4 linked regions of the Homo sapiens genome follow. The protein of the gene in region 4 purifies or fractionates together with the protein of the main gene of each other region. This does not show direct contact. Each region holds a gene or a part of one and is shown on either strand. Other genes may lie near its edges.

Region 1 (4,957 bases), on a different chromosome or scaffold from region 4:
AACTGCCTGGTGGAGAGAATTCTACCAAGCTTGATGAGTGTAAAGTTATGCCTCAAAACCATTCCTTTCTTGAAAATGATCTTAAAAATGCAATGGCCTCTTTCTTACCAAAGAAAGTAAGTGACAACTCAAATATACCCAACTCCGAGTTGCTGCCTTTTCTCCAGAATTTATGTAGTCAAGTTAATCATCTCCATGTGGGAAATAAGACCGAGTGTCAGGAAAACATCACCAAGCATGGTGAACGCATTCTTGGTGTTGGGTAAGTATTATTTTAAGACATACGAGTTTCGATTTGGTAGGTGGAAGAATCAGATGAAAGGAAACAGATTTGTCTCAATGAGTACTGCCTAAAATTTGTTTCCAGAGAAAATTTTAGCAACTTTTACATTTTACCATTAATACACTTAAAGGGGATAACTGCAGAGTAGAATGGATTACTTTGAAAGAAGTCCCTATAACTGGAGGTTTTGCACACTTCCCAGGCATTTTGTGGAAGGGTCACAAGTATTAGTTCACAGTTGGAATAGAAAGTGATTTGCATGAATGGAAAGGAGCTGTGGGAATTATAATCTTTATGTTGTTTTTATATATTTGTACTATTTTGTGCCTGGGTATGTTAAGCATGTCATTGTGACATTTTCCTTGAAGATTATGTTTGGTCTAGGCAAATTCCTGATTATTAAAAAACTATATTAGGATAATAATCACTTGTAGTTTACAAGCTATTATCCCCAGTCTCTTAATCCCTTATTTTGGCAGTACATATTTGATTAAGAGATAGCTAAGTATTATGTTCCTAATTGCTTAAGTAGATATAGTATGTCAAAATGGTGTTCTAGACTAGAATTCAGGACTCTAGGTGTGGTTTTGGCTTAAACATGTTGCCACACTGTTTAGTATTCTTTAGCCTAAGAGATTTTATTTGAAAATGAGGTAGTTGGATGATTTTGTAACTAAACGCCACCACCAACCAACAGGATTGAGTTGACATTTATAGAGAACTCTACCAACAATAGCAGAATATACACTTTTTTCAAGCATCTATGGAAGATTTGCAAAGATAGATTATATCTTGAGTCACAAAGCAAATCTGACCAAATTCAAGAGGATTGAAATAATACAATGTGTGTTTTCTGACCATAAATGAATCTAACTAGAAACCAATAAAAGACAACAAAATTTCCAGATTTTTGGGAATTACACAGCATTCTTAAATTTATGGTTCAAGAAAAAGTCTTGACAGAAATTAAACCTATTACACAGAAATGAATGAAAATACAACACATCAAAATTTGTGGGATGCAGTTAAAGAAGTATTGATAAGGATATTTATAGCACTAAATGATTACATTAGAAAAGAGGATTGTTCTTAAATCAGTAGCGTAAAGCTACAGCTCAACCAAAATAAAATAATCTGAATAGTCCTATAACCATTAAAGAAATTGAATTTACAATTTTAAAGCCAAGCAAACTGATCTTAAAGCAAGCAGAAAGAAGGAAATAATAACAGAAATCAGTGTAACTGAAAACAAGCAAACAAAATCAATGAAGCCAAAAGCCAGTTCTTTGAAAATTTCAATAAAATTGATACACTTCAAACAAGACTATCAAAAGATAAAAAGAAGATGCAATCATCAGTATCCGGAATGTAATGAGATGTCACTACTGATCCTAAGGCCGTTAAAAGATAACAAGGGAGGGAATATTACAAACAAATTTATGCTCATAAATTTGACAACTTAGGAGAAATGGATTAATTTCCCCAAAACCACAAACTACCAACCAAACTCAGCCAACATGAAATAAGTAATAAAATAGTCCTATAACCACTAAAAATATTTGATTAATGATTGGAAAGCTCATGAAAAAGAAATATCCAGGCCCAGATGGCTACACTGAAGGTTTCCACTGAACATTTAAAGAACATCAATTTTACATGCTTTTAAAAACTAGAAGAGGAGGGAAGATGTTCCAACTCATTCTGTGAAGTCAGTATTAGCCTGACACCAAACTAGATTGCCCCCCAAAATTAAAATACACAAAAATGCATGTAAATATATGTAAAATATGTAAATCTATAAAAAATACTTATAAAATATATGAAAAAATTTATAAACCTAACAAAATATATAAGGATATGTGAAATGAAAATTATAAAATACTGACAAAGGAAAAGAAAAGCCCTAAAAACTGGAGAGACATACCATATTCATGGATTTGAAGACACAGCATAGTAAAAACGTCAATTCTCTCCTAGTTGATATATAAATTTAATGTAATTCCTATGAAAAATCGAGCATGATTTTTTATAAATATGAATGAGATGATTCTAAAATTTAGAAATGGAGAATTTTTTAAAATGGAAAAATAAAGGAACTATAAAAAATTTTGAAAAAGTGTAAGAGAAATCACTACTTGATTTCAAGACATAGCCACAGTATTCAAGACTGTGTTATTGTCAGAGGCATAGACTTATAGATGGATAGCACAGAAATAACTCTGCACAAGTACACCAACTGACGTTTGACAATGCAAAAATAATTCAATACAGGTAGAATTGTCTTTTTAACCTGTGCTGGAACAGTTGGATATCCACAGGCAAAAAATGAATTGTGACTTAAATCTTATACTTTATGCAAAAATTAACACAAAATTACTTATAGATTAAAATGTAAAATATAAAACTATAAAGCTTTTCTACAGGAGAAACTCTAGGGACCTAGGACTAGGAAATGAGTTCTCAGATATGACATCAAAAGCGTGATCCATAAAATAAAAAACTGATTTATTGGGCCCCATCAAAATGTAAAACTTTTGTTTATGAAAGACACTGTTAGGGGAATTAAAATACAGACTGGGAGAAATTCTTTGCAAATTACAAATCCAGCAAATGACCTGTCTCTGAAGTACATAAAGAACTCTCAAAACTCTATGTTAAAAGCAAATAAAAATAAAACCTAACAATCCAATTTAAACCATGGGCAAAAGAATAGTCATTTCAACAGACAGGATATACAAATAGCAAATAAGCACAAGGAAAGTTGATCAACATTGACTTAGTGACTATTAGGGAAATGCATATTAAAACCACAATATATCACTACATATTTGGATGGCTAAAATTTAAAAATGGTAACAATACCAAATGCTGACAAAGATGTTTGGGAACTGGATCTCTCATACATTGTTGGTAGGAATATAAAATGGTACAGTCACTCTAAAAAATATTTTGGCAATATCTTAAAAACTAAACATACAGTTACCGTACAACCCAGCAATTATACTCCTGGACATCCCAGAGAAATGAAAGCTCAGGTCCACACAGAAACTTGTACACAGTTATTAATAAAAGCTTTCTTTGTAATATCCCAGAAGTCCCAACTAAAATGTCTTAGCAATAGGTGAATGGTTAAACTATGGTACCTCCATATCACGCAGTGCTGATGAGCAGTAAAAAACAACTTGGACATCTCTCAAAGGCATTTTGCTGAGTGACAAAAGAGAATCTCAAAAGGTCACATACTGTATGATCTCACTTTATAATATTTTCAAAATAATAAAACTGTAGAGATGAACAACATATTGATGGTTACCAGGTATTAGGGAAAGAAGACTTTAGGGGAGTAGGTATGACAATAGAGGGGTAGCAGGGAGGAGATCATTGCAGTTAAAGAATGGTTCTGCCTTTTGATTATGGTGGTGTTTAAATAAATATGTGTACATATGATAAAATGGCATAGAACTATACACACACATCATATTAATATCAATTTCCTGGTTTTGATATTGGATTATAGGTAGATAAGATGTGACCATTGGGAGGATTGGATAAAGGGCACTGAGAAACTAATATCTTTGCAACTTCCTGTGAATCCATAATTATTTCAAAATACAGAGTTTCTTAAAAACTGTCTTTGGTGTATTCTAGAGTAGTGGCTCTCAGACTTTTGGTCTTTACACTCTTAATTGAGGACTCCAATAAACTTATGTAGGCTACATAAAAATATTTGTTTAAAAATAACAATAAACCCACTGTATATTAACATAAATAACAGTCTTTATGAAAAAAAGCCAGATTTTCTTTTAAAATTTTATTGAGAATAGTATTATTTTAAATGTACATGAATCTATACATAATAGCTTTTGGCTGCATTATCATGTATATTGAATTATAGCATGTATAGTGAAATATAGCTAGTAAGAGCACAGTAGGAATACTGAGAACAGAGTGGATTAATCTCTGAAAAAGCATATATTTATACACTAAATCTCTACTACCTTGAAATTTTAGGAAAGAAGAATACACAACTACAGATTCTGTTAGTCATCAGGGCAATAACATAGATTTTGTAGCCTCTGGAAAATTCATGAGTATGAGGATGAGAAAGTCGAATAACATCTTAGTATAAACATACTTCTGACCTCAGTGAATTCCCAAAAGAATCATGGAGACCCCAAGGTTCTGTGGACCACATTCTGAGAGTTACTGTTCTTGTTTTGAGACGGAGTCTTATCACCCAGGCTGGAGTGCAGTTGCGCAATCTCAGCTCACTGCAGCCTCTGTCTCCCGGGTTCAAGCAATCCTCCCAGGTAGCTGGGACTACAGGCGCCCACCACCATACCCAGCTAATTTTTGTACTTTTAGTAAGAGACAAGAGTTTCACCATGTTGGCCAGGCTGGTCTCGAACTCCTGACCTCAAGTGATCCACTCACCTCAGCCTCCCAAAGTGCTGGGATTACAGGCGTGAGCCACCGTGCCTGCCCTGAGACTTACTGTTCTAATGTTCATTGTGAACGTTAGAAATTGGTGTGCTTTTTATTTATTTTGTTAGTTTGCCCATTCTAGTTAAATTCTGAAGTGTTTTTATACCAGGTTAAAAAAAAGAACCTTCTAGTAGTTTAGTAAGGTTGTTTGTATGAAGGAAGAAAAACTTTATAGAGTTGGTTGGGGAA
Region 2 (5,044 bases), on a different chromosome or scaffold from region 4:
TAACAACTATAGCCTAAGCCACTAAAGAACCCATAGATACCCACTGATGCTGATTACAGCTGAAGATATATAAAAACTACATCACTGCACCCACCCAGAATCAAAGCCAAAGCACCCCACCCTACCAACACCATAGATACATCTATAGGGAAGTCTTTTCTTATGGAAGTCAATCCATAAGACTGGAAGATGCAACTATTACACCAGATACACAGATATCAATGTAAGAACACAGGAAACATGAAAAAGCAAGGAAACATGACACCTTTAAAGGAACACAATAATTCTCCAGTAACAGATCCCAATGAAAAGACAATCCATGAAATGGATAAAAAAGAATTCAAAACAATGATATTAAAGAAACTCAGTGAGGTATGAGAGAACACAGATAAAGAGTACAAAGAAGGCCGGGTGCGGTGGCTCATGCCTATAATCTCAGCACTTTGGGAGGCCAAGACGGGCAGATCACAAGGTCAGGAGATAGAGACCATCCTGGCCAACATGGTGAAACCCCATCTATACTAAAAATACAAAAATTAGCTGGGCGTGGTGGCGCATGCCTGTAATCCTAGCTACTCAGGAGGCTGAGGCAGGAGAATCACTTGAACCAGGAAGTCAGAGGTTGCAGTGAGCTGAGATTGCGCCACTATACTCCAGCCTGGCAACAGGGAGAGATTCCGTCTCCAAAAAAAAAAGAGTACAAACAAATCAGAAAAATGATTCATGATCTGAATGGGAAAGTCAATAAAGAGATAAACATCATAAAAAAGAACCAAATAGAAATCCTGGAACTGAAGAAGTCAATGAAAGAAAGAAAAAATACAATCAAGAGCTTCAATAATAAACTAGATCAAGCAGGAGAAAAAGAATTTCAGAACTTGAGGACAGGTCTTTTGAAATAACTCAGACAAAAAAGAAAAAAGAATAAAGGAAGCCTACTTGACATATGCAACACCATAAAGAAAACAAGTATTAAAATTTTTGAAGTCTCAGAAGAAGAGATGGGCAAAGGTATTGAAAACCTATTAATGCAATAATAGCTGAAAACTTCTCAAGTCTTGAAAGAGATATAGATATTCAGATACAGGAAGCTTGAAGGTCTCAAAATAGATTCACCTCAAAAAGATCTTCTCCAAGGCACATTATAATCAAAATGTCAAGTCAAAGACAAAGATAAAATTCAAAAAAACAACAGGAGGAAAGTGTCAAGTCACATAAAAGGGAATTCCCAGCAGAAACCTTACGGGCCAGGAAAGTTTGGGATGATATATTCAAAGTGCTGAAAGGGAAAAAAAAAAAGGCAGCTATGATTACTATACCCAGCAAAGCTATTATTCAAAAATGAAGGAGAAATAAAGTCCTTCCCAGATAAGCAAAACCAGAGGGAATTCATCACCACTGACAAGCCTTTCAATAAATTATTAAGGGAGTCCTACATATGGAAGTGAAAGAACAATATATACCATCATGAAAACACAAGACAGTATAAAACTCACTAGTAGAACAGATACACAAATGGGAAAGAGAAAGAATTCAAACATTACCACTTCAGAAAACCATCAAACTGCAATGATAAAACTTAAAAGAGGAAGTAAGGAAAAAAGGATATATAAAACAACCAGAAAACAATTAATAAAATGGCAGAAATAAGTCCTTAGCCATCAATAATAACCTTGAATGTAAATGGATTAAACTCCTCACTAAACTGGCTGGCTAAATTAAAAAGCATCACTATTTGCTGCCTATAAGAAACTTACTTCACTTATAAAGACACACATAGACTAAAAGTGAAGGGATGGAAAAAAATTCCTGCAAATAAGAACCCAAAGCAAGCAGGAGAAGCTATACTTACATGAGATAACACAGACTTTAAGTCAAAAACTGTAAAGAAGGTCATTCTATAATGATAAGGGGATCAATATAACAGTTCTAAATATATATGTACCCAACACTGGAGCCTCCAGATAATAAAAAGCAAATATTATTAGATCTAAATAGACTCCAATACAATAATAGTTGGTGACTTCAACATCCAACTGTCAGCACTGGAGAGATCATCTAGACAGAAAACCAATAAAGAAAACTGGGAATTTAAACTGCACTTTAAACCAAATGAAACTAACAGACATTTACTAAACATTTCATCCAATAGCCGCAGAACACACATTCTTCTCATCAGCACGTGGAACATTCTCCAGAATAGACCATATGTTAGGCCACAAAACAAATGTCAAGAAATTTTTAAAAACCAAAATCATATCAAGTATCTTTCAGATGACAATGGAATAAAACTAGAAATCAATAACAAGAGGAATTATGGAAACTGTACAAATACATAGAAATTAAACAACATGCTCCTGAACAACCACTGGATCAATGAAGAAATTAAGAAGAAAATTAAAAAATTTCTTGAAACAAATGAAAACAGAAACACAACATACAAAAACCTATGGGATACAGCAAAAGCAGAGCCAAGAGGGAAGTATAGCAATGAATACCTACATCAAAAAAAAAAAGGAAAGATTCTGAATGAACAAGCTAACAACACACCTCAGGGAACTAGAAATGCAGGAACCAGCTAAACCCCAAATCACTAGAAGGAAAGAAATAATAAAATCAGAGCAGAACTAAACAAAATAGAGACTTAAAAAAATACAAACGATCAATGAAACAAAAGATAGTTTTTTGAAAAGATAAACAAAATTAGTAAACTGCTAGCTAGACCAACCAAGAAAAAAGAGAGAAGACCCAAATAAATAAAATCATAAATGAGAAAAGAGACATTACAACTGATACCACAGAAATACAAAGGATCATAAGAGACTATTATGAACAAGTATATACTAATAAATTGGAAATCCTAGAGGAAATGGACAAATTCCTGGACACGTACAACCTACCAAGATTGAACCAGGAAGAAATAGAAAACCTGAACAGACCACTAACAAGTAATGAGATTGAATCAGTAATAAAAAGCCTCCCAACAAAGAAAAGCCCAAGACTAGATAGCTTTACTATTGAATTCTACCAAACTTAAAAGAACAAACACCAATTTTTCTCAGTCTATTCCCAAAAATTGAATGGGAGGAAATTCTTCCTAACTCATCTACAAAGCCAGTATTACTCTGACACCAAAACCAGATAAGGACACAACCACCACAACAACAACAACTATAGGCCAACATCCCTGATGAACATAGGATGCAAAAATCCCCAACAAAATACGAGCAAACTGAATCCAACAACACATCAAAAAGATAATACACCATGATCAACTGGGATTTATCCCAGGGATGCAAGGAGGGTTCAACACAAGCAAATCAATAAATCTGATATATAACACCAATAGAATGAGGGATAAAAACCACATTATCATCTTAATAGATGCAGAAAAAGCATTTGATATGATTGAACATCCCTTCATAATAAAAATTCTCAGCAAATCAGGCACAGAAGGAACAAATCAGTCCTCAACTTAATAAAGGCCACATACGACAAACCCACAGCTAACATCGTACTTAATGGAGAAAAGCTGAACATTTTTCCTCTAAGAACTGGAACAAGACAAGGATGTCCACTTTCACCACTTTTATTTAACATAGTCCTGGAAGTTCTAGCCAGAGTAATCAGTCAAGAGAAAGAAATAAAACTCTTCCAAATTAGACAGGAAGTGAAATTGTCCCTCTTTGCAGATGATATGATCTTATAAATACAAAAACCTAAAGATTGCATCAAAAAATTCTTAGAATGAATAAATGAATTCAGTGAAGTTGCAGGATACGAAATCAACACACAAAAATCAGTAGTGTTTTTACACACCAATAACAAACTAGTTGAAAAATAAATCAGGAAAGCAATCCCATTTATAATAGCTACAAAAAAAATACTTAGGAATACATTTATCCAAGAAGGTGAAAGACTTCTACAACGAAAATTACAGAACACTAACGAAAGAAATTGAAGAAGACATAAACAAATAGACATCCCATGCTTATGGATCAGAAGAATTAATATTGTTAGAATGACTGTACTACCCAAAGGAATCTACAGGTTCAATACAATTCTATCAAAATACCCACGATATTCTTCACAGAAACAGAAAAAACAACCCTAAAATTTATATGGGACCACAAAAGGGCCTGAATAGCCAATGCAACATTGGGCAAAAAGAACAAAGATGGAGGCATCACACTATTTGACTTCAAAATATATAATACTACAAAGCTATAGTAACCAAAACAGCATAATATTGGTATAAAAACAAATAGATCAAAGGAAGAGAATAGAAAACCAAGGAATAAATCCATGTATTTCTAGCCAAACGATTTTTGAAAACAACACCTACAACATATTAGGGAAAGAACAGTCTCCTCAATAAGTGGTGCTGGGAAAACCGGATTTCCATACACAGAAGAATAAAACCAGAGCCCCCATCTCTCACCATATACAAAAATCAAATCAAAATGGATTAAAGATTTAAATGTAAGACCTGACAGTATAAAAACTACTAAAAGAAACCTTCTGCACAGCAAATGAAACAATTAACACAGTGTAAGGATAAACTATAGGAGAAGATATCTGCAAACTATTTATCCAACAAGAAACGAGCATCCAGAATATGCAAGAAACTCAAACAATTCAATAGCAAAAAACCCAAAAAAGTCCCATTAAAAAGCAGGCAAAGGATCTGAAAAGAATCTCAAAAGATGACACACAAATGGCCAACTATATGAAAAAATGTTCTACATCACTGAGCATCAGAGAGATGCAAATCCAAAACCACACTGAGATATCATCTTACCCCAGTTAAAATGGCTCCTTTGAGCCTGGACTGAACTGTCACTTTACTAACGGATATCAAATGGTTAATAGCATTCCCTAAGAGTCTAAAACCCAAAATATCAGCTTTATCTTGTTTAACCACAAACCCAAGGAAGCCATGGCTATTGGGTGAAAATCCTTTCTGCCAAGAGGTAACACAAAGCCACATTTCCTCTCATTTTCTTCCCATTATAAAATGGTACCCGCAGCTCCAAAACAAAGC
Region 3 (5,044 bases), on a different chromosome or scaffold from region 4:
ACAGAGCTCAGGAGTGTTTGCTGTCACTCCAAAGCATGATGGTATTGACCTGACTCAATTTCCACACTTAAGCCATGGAAGGAGACACCTTACATATTTGCACCGTCTAATAATAGCTGTCATTTGTGGTTGAGTGTCAAAACTAGATTAGGCATTGCATGTATGTATTTATTCCTTAGAGCAACCTATGAAATAGACATTATTAGCATCACCCCTTTATCTGAAAGGTAAAATTTAACTGAAAATTTTATGGTCTAAGTCCATAGCCTTTCTCACCATATGCTATCCCCTCCCTACTCACCACCACCTTGTAAGTTTTCTTACCTTAGAATAAGAATGCTTGTTCTGAAGATTTGGGAGGTAGAAAGTGAATCTACATACATGGCAGGAGAAGATAGCTGTTCCATCTGCACTTGGGCTCTTCCTTTTGTTCATTTCCCAGAGCATTTTACACTGTATCATTCAGGAGATGCCCAGGAAAATATCTGGGTCTGTGGTTAAATGAGTTTAGGGAAAAATACCTCATATCTTCATTACTGATTTATGGTAGATTTTTATATTAAAGGCAGAGAAGTCCTGCAGAAGAGAAATGTGTTTTGGCTGTTTTGAACTTAGCATTTCCTGAAATTATTTCACCACAGAATCTTCTCCTTTCCTCCCATCCCCAGTTGATTTGGTTCCTACAGAGCAACATACTGATTCCTTGCTTGGTAAGAGTGGTTGAAGTCAGGTTTCAGGCTCTCTTCTACCAGTAGCTCAAATTCATCAGTGTTAGGGGTCATCTGACTGACTCTTCACCCGATTACAGACTGAGGCCTACTGACATGGAGTCTGTTTTCCCTTTGGGATTGTTTCAAGAGTCTTCTCTCCAGTCGTCAGGACCTGGGGAACAGAACAGATGACTCCACGTGGGAACTTTATCCAGATTCTCTGACTGACTGAAACAGCTAGATAGTTCATTCTTTCTTGACTTTAATGCTGACTTCAAAATAGAAAAGGATATTGCACATATACAGTATCCTTCTACTTGGCAGTTTGTGCAAACTGGTGGAATACCTTTTCCTAAGAGTAGACCAGGCTGGGTGTGTTGGCTTATGCCTGTAATCCCAGCACTCTGGGAGGCTGAGGCAGGTGGATCACTTGAGATCAGGAGTTCAAGACCAGCATAGGCAACATGGTGAAACACCATCTCCACCAAAAACAAAAAATTAGCCGGGAGTGGTGGCATGTGCCTGTAGTCCCCAGGTACTCAGGAGGCCGAGGCAGGAGAATCGCTTGAACCCATGAGAAAGAGGTTGCAGTGAGCCAAGATCATGCCACTGCACTCCAGCCTGGGCAAGAGAGTGAGGCTCCATCTCAAAAAAATAAAAAATAAAAGTAGACCAGATGCACGAGTAGGAGCTTTGTGTGAGTTCTGAGCATGTAGAGCGAGTAGAGGGCAGATGTCCATCTAGGCTCTTGGCAAGCCTGGTTCCCAGCAGGGAGTGGTAAGAGTTCAGAAATGATGTCAGGGCAGTAAGAGACTGTATTTGTACCATCATGCCTTACCTATTCAGACATCCTTCTCTTTCCTTTTCAGTCAGTGGTGCCGAAGACCAAAACGGTATGTAGTTGTTTCTGTTTGGGAATGGGCTTAGGCCCTTTTGTCCTTCCCCTCCTTCAACCCCAATCCCTTTAGTAATCTAAGAATTCTGAGCATTTGAGCCCCCAGAGAGAGGGTGTGTGGGAAACTCACTGAGACCCAGGGGGCCTCTCACCATCTTTAGAAATTCTCTCTGCTCGCTGTGCAGGAAGCAGAGTGGAGCATACGTAGGGGCGGACTGACTGATGTGCATGTCCCTGGGCTACCTGAGCTCATAAGCCAACATTTGTAAAACACTGAAACAGAGGAGGGGTGGCATGTATCACACTCAGCTCATTTTTTAAAATCTTGGTGTTTTCAGTTCTGGTCTGGGTAGGGAGGGTCTCTGTGTACACCTTCTGGGGAATCAGGGTGTTTAGCAGCTTCTGGTACTAACCAAAAAGAAAGGGTGGTGACCTGAGACAGCCCTGTTTGTACAGGGCTGGTAATGGTTAGAGCTACTCTGGAGCTAACACATGTGCTACTCTCTGGGCACAAGCTATATATCTCAGCTCAGCTGCCACTCACTTAAAGACCACCACTGGGCCCTCAGGTACTCCCAGAACACACTGCAGAACTCCTGACCATCTGTGGGGACATTCTAAAATATGCTATGTGTTTTCAAAAGCCTCAAGGGTATATGGTTGTGAACTCCCTTCCAAGAGAGAACGTTCTAAGAGTAGTGTTGGACTAGCCTGCAGCATTTTAAAACTTATTTCAGAAGATTTCCCAAATTTATTTAGTAAAATGGCCTTTTGCTCAGAATGGGCAATTTTATGTCTGATTACTTCTAATCAGACATAAAAAACAGTTGAGCTTTTCTCAATTCCCCAAAACCATTTGGAGTTCTAGACCCACCTCCACCCTCCAACCCCCCAGCATCACCGGTACCAAGATCAGGCTGATCTACTTGGTGCTTCCTTTCTTTTTCTGATTCCCTGGGAGAATGCTGACAACTGAGTTAATGTGTTTGTTGTTACTTCTGAGAGAATGAGTAACTGAAAATTATAAATTATTCCCATTCATCTTAGGTATTTGTATAGTCTCCAAACCTCTGTTAGGACCAACAGCACCTCAAAAGAGGCAAATGGGTTTCACTCCCTTTCACACCCAGCCTACCTCCTAGGGGGAAGTATTTCTTGACTTTTTAATAGTCCAGAAAAGAGAAAGTATAGATGCAATAAGGGAGAATTCCTCTATGGGTTGGCCAACCCCCAGATGGTAGAGGTGACTTCTGTGAGATCAGTTCCTTTTTATGGGTACCTACTTCAGGCTACAATTTAAGACATATTGGAGATGGCTGGGCTTTTGAACATTATTTTTTCTGTTTGGGTCAGCTCTACTAGGATACTGGTCATGCCCACTATATTCTGCTAGTGACACAAGCCAGTTAGCATTTATTGAGAACCCTGTGCACTCAGCAGTTGATACTGTCTGGATAGTTTCTACTCTTAGGGCAGTTAGGCAGAAGGCCATTCTAGAGCAGGAGCTGTGGGGCCAGCCTGCCTGGGTTTGAATCCTGGCTCCTCGACTTAGCAGCTTTGTGCCCTTGGGCAAGCCACTTAACTTTTTTGCCCCAGTTGGCCTCATCTATAAAATGAAAATAACAAGAGGTCCTACTTTATAGTTTTTGTGAGGCTTCAGTGAGTTAACACATGCAAAGCTTTCAGGACCCTGCCTGGCACACGGTAAGCATTCAGTAAATGTGGGATGTTGTCATTCCCTTGGGAAGATGTTCATTCATCAGACATTTAGAGTACCTACCATATAACTGGCATTGGGGGCTTCAAAGATGAATATCTAACCTTGGAGCATGGAATAAATGCTAAGCATATAATTGTAAAAATTGATTGAATATGTTGAATTAAAGAGCTCATAGTCTACTCTGGGAGTAAGTAGGCAAACTCAAAATTTTAATCCAATGTGATAAGCAGTCATGGGGGTATAAAAAAGTTTTGTGGGGGTAGAAAGAGGGAGCAGTAATCTCTGCCAAGTTTCTCCACCAGGAAGTTTCCTCAGGAAACCTGGGAGTAGTTTGTGAGATAGCAGAGGGGTCCCCCATGATCCCTGACTTTATTAAATGGAGGATATGTTTATAGATAAAGCCTTGTGATCCTTAATGAACCATTCATCACAGTTCCATTTCTATCTAAACTTTTCTGAACCAGTTTTATCTTTTTAGCCTGTTCTGCCTCAGGGGATAATGAGTCCCTACGTGCCACTCACACACTCACTATATTACAGCCCCAACAGTCTGAAAATTATTTCTTTTAAGCTTTGAGAACTTTGCCTTAGTTCTCATGTTCTGGGATGTGTCTGATCCACAAGTGCTGTGTACTTTTCAAATCTTTACCTGTTGGAGGGGATGAAGTGTGGATTAAACAAGTAACCAGAGTTGGTTATTGAGGAAATGTTTCCTCGGAGGAGCTCTATTTGAGGGAAGCATGTGCACTGAGACTTTGTTTACAATGTACCTGTTATCTCCCACCTCCCTCCCCCAGTCACCCCTATACACTTAAGACATTCTCCTCACTCCTCTGCCCCTTTTTTTCTGCCCTGTGTGTTTGTACAGGGGGAGCAGTACCATCAGGCTTGGAGGAGAACCTGTGTAAGATCTGCATGGACTCACCCATTGACTGTGTTCTTCTGGAGTGTGGCCACATGGTAACCTGTACCAAGTGTGGCAAGCGCATGAATGAATGTCCCATCTGCCGGCAGTATGTAATCCGAGCTGTGCATGTCTTCCGGTCCTGAGAGCTTGCATCGGTTTCTTCAGTGCCTTACAGGGAAATAGCCTGGGGTGTCTGGGCTCAGGGTTGGCCAGCTTGCAGAGGAGCAAGCTAGTAGAAATATTGCAGGGTTCCCAAAACCAGGTCAAGCAAGATGCCATGTCACCCCTGAGCATGCCTGTCTTCCCAGGGGTGTACCTCTTGGCTGGCAAAGCCCAAGGCCAGTGGGAACTTGTATAAATCACATGGGTATGTTCTTGGTTCAGTGATCTTGGAGTGATGATGGTAACTGATGAACAGAGAACTTTCCAGAACTTGGGTCCTGTCTTCCTCCCTGAACCTAGACAGTTTCACCCCTCCTCCTGTACCCAACCCATCCCCACCCCATATGGGAGATGCTTGCCCATGTGTTTCATCAATCAGAAGTCCTCCTCCCCAGCACATTCGGATTTAAATTTCTGGTCTCTCCGGCTTTCTGTGCTTTAACTATCTTTGCTAAAGTCTCTTGCTACATTGCCTAAATCCATTTGTTTCTTTGGACCAAAAATGTTAGTTTACCAGACCGATAGTGGTCCTTAGGACAGATTTTAGACCAGTAAACTTATCTTTGGTGAGAAATGAAATACAAATGCTATAGAAAAATTTCAAAGTTGTTAAAAGCCACTTCATTAAATGCTGGGATTGGAAGCTGTTG
Region 4 (5,044 bases):
TGGACTCAGCACCGCAGCCCCTTTGCTGAAGCAACCTGAACATTGAGAGTGCTTGTGTTTTCTAGCTGCGGTTGGATTTCTCACGATGTCCAGTGTTATCTCCATGTCTGCCCCTTTCTTCCTGGGGAAGATCATTGATGTCATCTATACCAACCCCACTGTGGACTACAGCGACAACCTGACCCGCCTCTGCCTAGGGCTCAGTGCCGTGTTTCTGTGTGGTGCTGCCGCCAATGCCATTCGTGTCTACCTCATGCAAACTTCAGGTAACAGTCTCTCCTCTCAGGGATGTGAGTCATCCTGAAGAAGATGTAGAGTCCTGTGGGTTTGTTCGGGCTCAAATCTCATGTGCTCCAGGCTCCATTCTCTTCCTCTCTTCCTGGCATCCCATTAAGTGGGGATAGAGTCCAATGACTGCCCAGATGTTGGAGTTACAGATTATTTTAGATCAAGCACTCTCAACTCTTCTTTTATAGTTGAAGTTGAGCTGTAAGGGCAATCATGTCGGTCTTATGGGAGGTTTGAAAATAAGCCCCTCGGGCTGGGTGCCGTGGCTCATGCCTGTAATCCCAGCACTTTGGGAGGCTGAGGCAGGTGGATCATGAGGTCAGGAGTTCGAGACCAGCCTGGCCAACATGGTGAAACCCCGTCTCTACTAGAAATACAAAAATTACCCGGGCGTGGTGGTGTGTGCCTGTAATCTCAGCTACTCAGGAGGCTGAGGCAGGAGAATCGCTTGAACCTGGGAGGCAGAGGTTGCAGTGAGCCCAGATCATACCACTGCACTCCAGCATGGGGGACAGAGCGAGACTCCATCTCAAAAAAAAAAAAAAGAAAAAAAAAGAAAATGAGGCCCCTGGCCATGAAGCTGGACTTCTGAGGCTTCCTGAAGGCTTCAGAAACCCATTTACATGCCCCATGCTTGTGTTTCTCCTTAAGTAGCAGCTGGGATGATAACTTTGTTAGTATTTCTCTGAAGAGGTCTTGTTTTTACAGGCAGGTCACTGCCACAATAATGAGAGAACCTGGGACACCAACTCGAAGTCTGTTGCTCTCCATTTATCTCTGTGGATAATTAACCAATTCTTGCCATTTGAAGGTTCAATACAGGAAAGGGTTTCCAGGGAGGAACAAAATGAGCTTTTGGAAGTTAATGTAATAAAACTTCTTTGTAAATAATACCTTAAAAAAATCTCGGCCAAGTGTGGTGGCTCATGCCTGTAATCCTAGCACTTTGGGAGGCTGAGGCAGGAGGATTGCTTGAGCCCATGAGTTTGAGACCAGCCTGAGCTACATAGCAAGACTCCGTCTATATAAAAAATAAAAATAAGTTAGCTGGGTGTAGTGGCGGACATCTGTAGTTTCAGCTACCCAGGAGGCTGAGGTGGGAGGATGGCTTGAGCCCACAAGGTTGAGGTTACAGTGAACTGTGATCGTGCCACTTCATTCAGGCCTGGGTGATAGAGCAAGACCCAGTCTCTTAAAAAAAAAAAAAAAGTAAAAATAAAAAAGGCCTCTGAGTCATGTTATATTTATTTTATTCCTGTATCCTCTCACTAGCGCCCACAGTCTGTAGTTAATAAGAGAAAAGTAGTGTTAGTAGTGCATGACAGTTAATGTGCCTGGTTTGGGAAAGTCTCTTTCCACCCATGGGATACAGTGCAGCAGACACGCTCAGAGGCTGCATTGCTCAGGAGGGTTACAACTCCAGGCCAAGCTGCTGCACAGTAAGTGGCTGCCCCATAATGGTAATGGATGTCTTTACCCTTGGTGAGCCTGTTCGTGTTTGCTTTTGCAGGTCAGCGCATTGTGAATAGGCTGAGAACTTCATTATTCTCCTCCATTCTGAGGCAGGAGGTTGCTTTCTTTGACAAGACTCGCACAGGAGAATTGATTAACCGCCTCTCATCAGACACTGCACTCCTGGGGCGCTCAGTGACTGAAAACCTCTCAGATGGGCTCAGGGCCGGGGCCCAGGCTTCCGTAGGCATCAGTATGATGGTATGTGGGCCTGGTTCCCCTTGGTACCTTCCTGCCAGGGCTTGGCTTGCACCAGGCCTCTCACGTGTGAGACGAGCTCAAGCTGAGCGGTTCGCATCATTCTGTAAGTGCCTAGAGCCAAAAGTGCTGTTGCAGAAGCTGCTGGAACGTGGGGATTGCCTCTGCCTGCATGGCCTCTTGTACCTTCATTTCTCCAGAATGAGTGATTATCTGGAAAATGGACTCATGTGTTACTGCTGGGTATTCTGAGATGTGTGTACCCGGGGTATTAAGGCAGAAAAGAGCATCAGGTAGAAGGAGCACTGGGTACTACCCTGTGGGTGGCACCAAGCGGTGACTAAATTCCATTCCTCTGTGTGTGTAAGTCGAACTGTGCTCTTTTAAGGGGAGAGCTCTTCACTCCCATGGCCTTTTTTCCTTTCCTTAACTGGGTGGCTTGTGCCTGTCCTGTCTGCTTGCCTTACCTCTTCAACCAGTATTTCTATTCAGCCCAGTGCTGCAGGTCATTGGAGAGGCAATGCAAGCCACATATGTGATTTTAATGTTTTAGTAGCCACATTTAAAAAAGCAAAAAGAAGCCAATGAGATTAATTTTTTTTTTAATTTTAATTTTTTTAGAGACAGTCTCACTCTGTTACCCAGGCTGGAGTACAGTGGCAAGATCATAGCTCACTGCAGTCTTAAACTCCTGGGCTCAAGTGATTCTCCCACCTCAGTCTCCCAAGTATCTGGGACTACAGGCACACACCACCAAGTCTGGCTAATTTAAAGAATATATATATATATTTTTTGTAGAGGCAGGGTCTCTCTATGTTGCCCAGGCTGGTCTCAAACTCTTGGCCTCAAGTGATCCTCCTGCCTCGGCCTCCTGAAGTGCTGGGATTACAGGCTTGAGCCACTGTACCTGGCTGAGATTAATTTTAATAATGTTTTGTTTAAGCCAGTATAAACAAAATATTGTCATCTCAAGATGTAATTAATATCAAAATTATTAATGAGGTATTTTATATTATTTCTTTCATATTATAGTTGACCCTTGAACAATGCAGGGGTTGGGACACTGAAGCCCACACAGTCAAAAATCAAAGTATAACTTTTGACTCCCTAAAAACTCAACTACTAATAGCCTACTGTTGACCAGAAGCCTTACTGATAACATTAACAGTCAATTACCATGTATTTGGTATATGTATTATATACTATGTTCTTATAACAGAGTAAGCTAGAAAAAAGAAATGGTATTAAGAAAATCATAAGGAAGGTAAAATATATTTATTATTTATTAAGTGGAAGTGGATCATCATAAAAGCTTTTTTTTTTTTTTTTTGAGACGGAGTATCGCACTGTCATCCGGGCTGAAGTGCAATGGCACGATCTTGGCTCACTGCAACCTCCTCCTCCCGGGTTCAAGTGATTCTCCTGCCTCAGCCTCCCGAGTAGCTGGGATTATAGGTGCCAGCCACCACGCCTCGCTAATTTTTTTGTATTTTTAGTAGAGATGGGGTTTCACTATGTTGGCCAGGCTGGTCTTGAACTCCTGACCTCGTGATCTGCCTGCCTCAGCCTCCCAAAGTGTTGGGATTGCTGGCGTGAGCCACTGCGCCCGGCTCATCACAAAAGTATTTATCCTCATTGTCTTCACACTGAGTAGACTGAGAGGAGGAAGAAAGGTTGTTCTTGCTGTCTCAGGGGTGGCAGAGATGGAAGAAAATCTATGTATAAGTTGACCCATGCATTTCAGACCAATGTTGTTCAAAGGTCAACTGAATTTCCAAATCTGGTGTGTATTCTCTACTTAAGGAACATCTTAATTCGGATGCTAAATTTTCATTGAAAGTACTTGATCTATATTTAGATTTTATAAAATGTACAATTGAAAAAGTAGTTTGACATACTCAAGTTTTCCAGACATACTTAATAGTTTGCCAATAACTGAATGGAGTATAGGCTTTTAAATTTTAATTAAACCTAAATACAATTAAAAAGTCAATGTCTCAGTCATACCTGCCACATTTCAAGTTTCCAGTAGGGCTATCGTTTTGGGCAGTGCAGTTCTAGACTCGTGGAATAAGAACTGTAAATAATCCTTTCTCACAAGTGGAAAAGCTTGGATTCTGTCCTTTGTGTCCCATGAAGCACTTAGAGAGGAAGGGTGTGTTGCCTATTAGATCTGACTTACGGAATGAAAAACAGCTTTGAAATCTCATGATTTTCCAGCTAAGAGAGAAGCAAACCTCTGGAAGAGGACCCTTCCTGCACTAACATGCCGTTTTCCAAATATGAATAGTTTTGGGGATCAGGAAGAGTTCAAGCTGGGAAAAATCACTTGGGGTACTTTTTGTAACAAGGAAAGGGAATTCAGTGTAGGTCAGATGAGCAATTCAAAGGGGTCTGTTTGGGATGCCATAATAATACCACAGACTGGGTGGCTGAAACAACAGAAATGTATTTCTCACAATTCTGGAGGTTAGAAGTCCAGGGTCAAGGTGCTAGCAAAATAGTTTCATTCTGAGGCCTTTTCTTGTGGCTTGGCTGAAACAACAGAAATGTATTTCTCACAATTCTGGAGGTTAGAAGTCCAGGGTCAAGGTGCTAGCAAAATAGCTTCATTCTGAGGCCTTTTCTCTTGGCTGGTAGGCAGCTGCCATCTTGCCATGTGCTCACATAGTGGAGAGAGAGTGTGCTCTAGTGTCTCTTATAAGGACACTAATCCTATTGGATCATGGCCCCACACTTAACGACCTCATTTAACCTTAGTTACTTTCTTAGAGGCCCCATCTCCAAATACAGCCATGGTGGGGATTAAGGCTTCAACATGTGAATTTCAGGGGGAATTTCCATTCAGTCTGTAAAAGGGCCTCAGGAAGTGGCTTCACCTAGGATCTGATCTTTGGCTCTAGGGGATCAGAAATGTGACTTTGTTTCTCCTGCACAAACTCATGGACCTGACATAGGGGAAGTCCAGTTATGAGAACCTGATATTGTGTATGGCATACTGCCAATTTATTAATTTACATAGTGGGCCTACCCACCATTAAGTTGT

Evidence for each region.
Region 1: the proteins of ABCB10 (region 4) and C10orf88 purify together in Homo sapiens (co-immunoprecipitation; one large-scale study listed by IntAct). This does not show direct contact.
Region 2: the proteins of ABCB10 (region 4) and IFT43 purify together in Homo sapiens (co-immunoprecipitation; one large-scale study listed by IntAct). This does not show direct contact.
Region 3: the proteins of ABCB10 (region 4) and RFFL purify together in Homo sapiens (co-immunoprecipitation; one large-scale study listed by IntAct). This does not show direct contact.

Annotation. Positions count from the first base shown.
Region 1 is NC_000010.11:122,933,010-122,937,966, reverse strand, and holds part of C10orf88 (ATPase PAAT), read left to right. Parts: coding exon 1-262; intron 263-4,957. UniProt on the Homo sapiens protein: ATPase that regulates mitochondrial ABC transporters ABCB7, ABCB8/MITOSUR and ABCB10. Regulates mitochondrial ferric concentration and heme biosynthesis and plays a role in the maintenance of mitochondrial homeostasis and cell survival.
Region 2 is NC_000014.9:76,015,634-76,020,677, reverse strand, and holds part of IFT43 (intraflagellar transport protein 43 homolog), read right to left. Parts: intron 1-5,044. UniProt on the Homo sapiens protein: As a component of IFT complex A (IFT-A), a complex required for retrograde ciliary transport and entry into cilia of G protein-coupled receptors (GPCRs), it is involved in ciliogenesis.
Region 3 is NC_000017.11:35,011,299-35,016,342, reverse strand, and holds part of RFFL (E3 ubiquitin-protein ligase rififylin), read left to right. Parts: intron 1-1,579; coding exon 1,580-1,603; intron 1,604-4,193; coding exon 4,194-4,375; 3' UTR 4,376-5,044.
Region 4 is NC_000001.11:229,544,456-229,549,499, reverse strand, and holds part of ABCB10 (ATP-binding cassette sub-family B member 10, mitochondrial), read left to right. Parts: exon of another isoform or gene 1-65; coding exon 66-266; intron 267-1,798; coding exon 1,799-2,001; intron 2,002-5,044.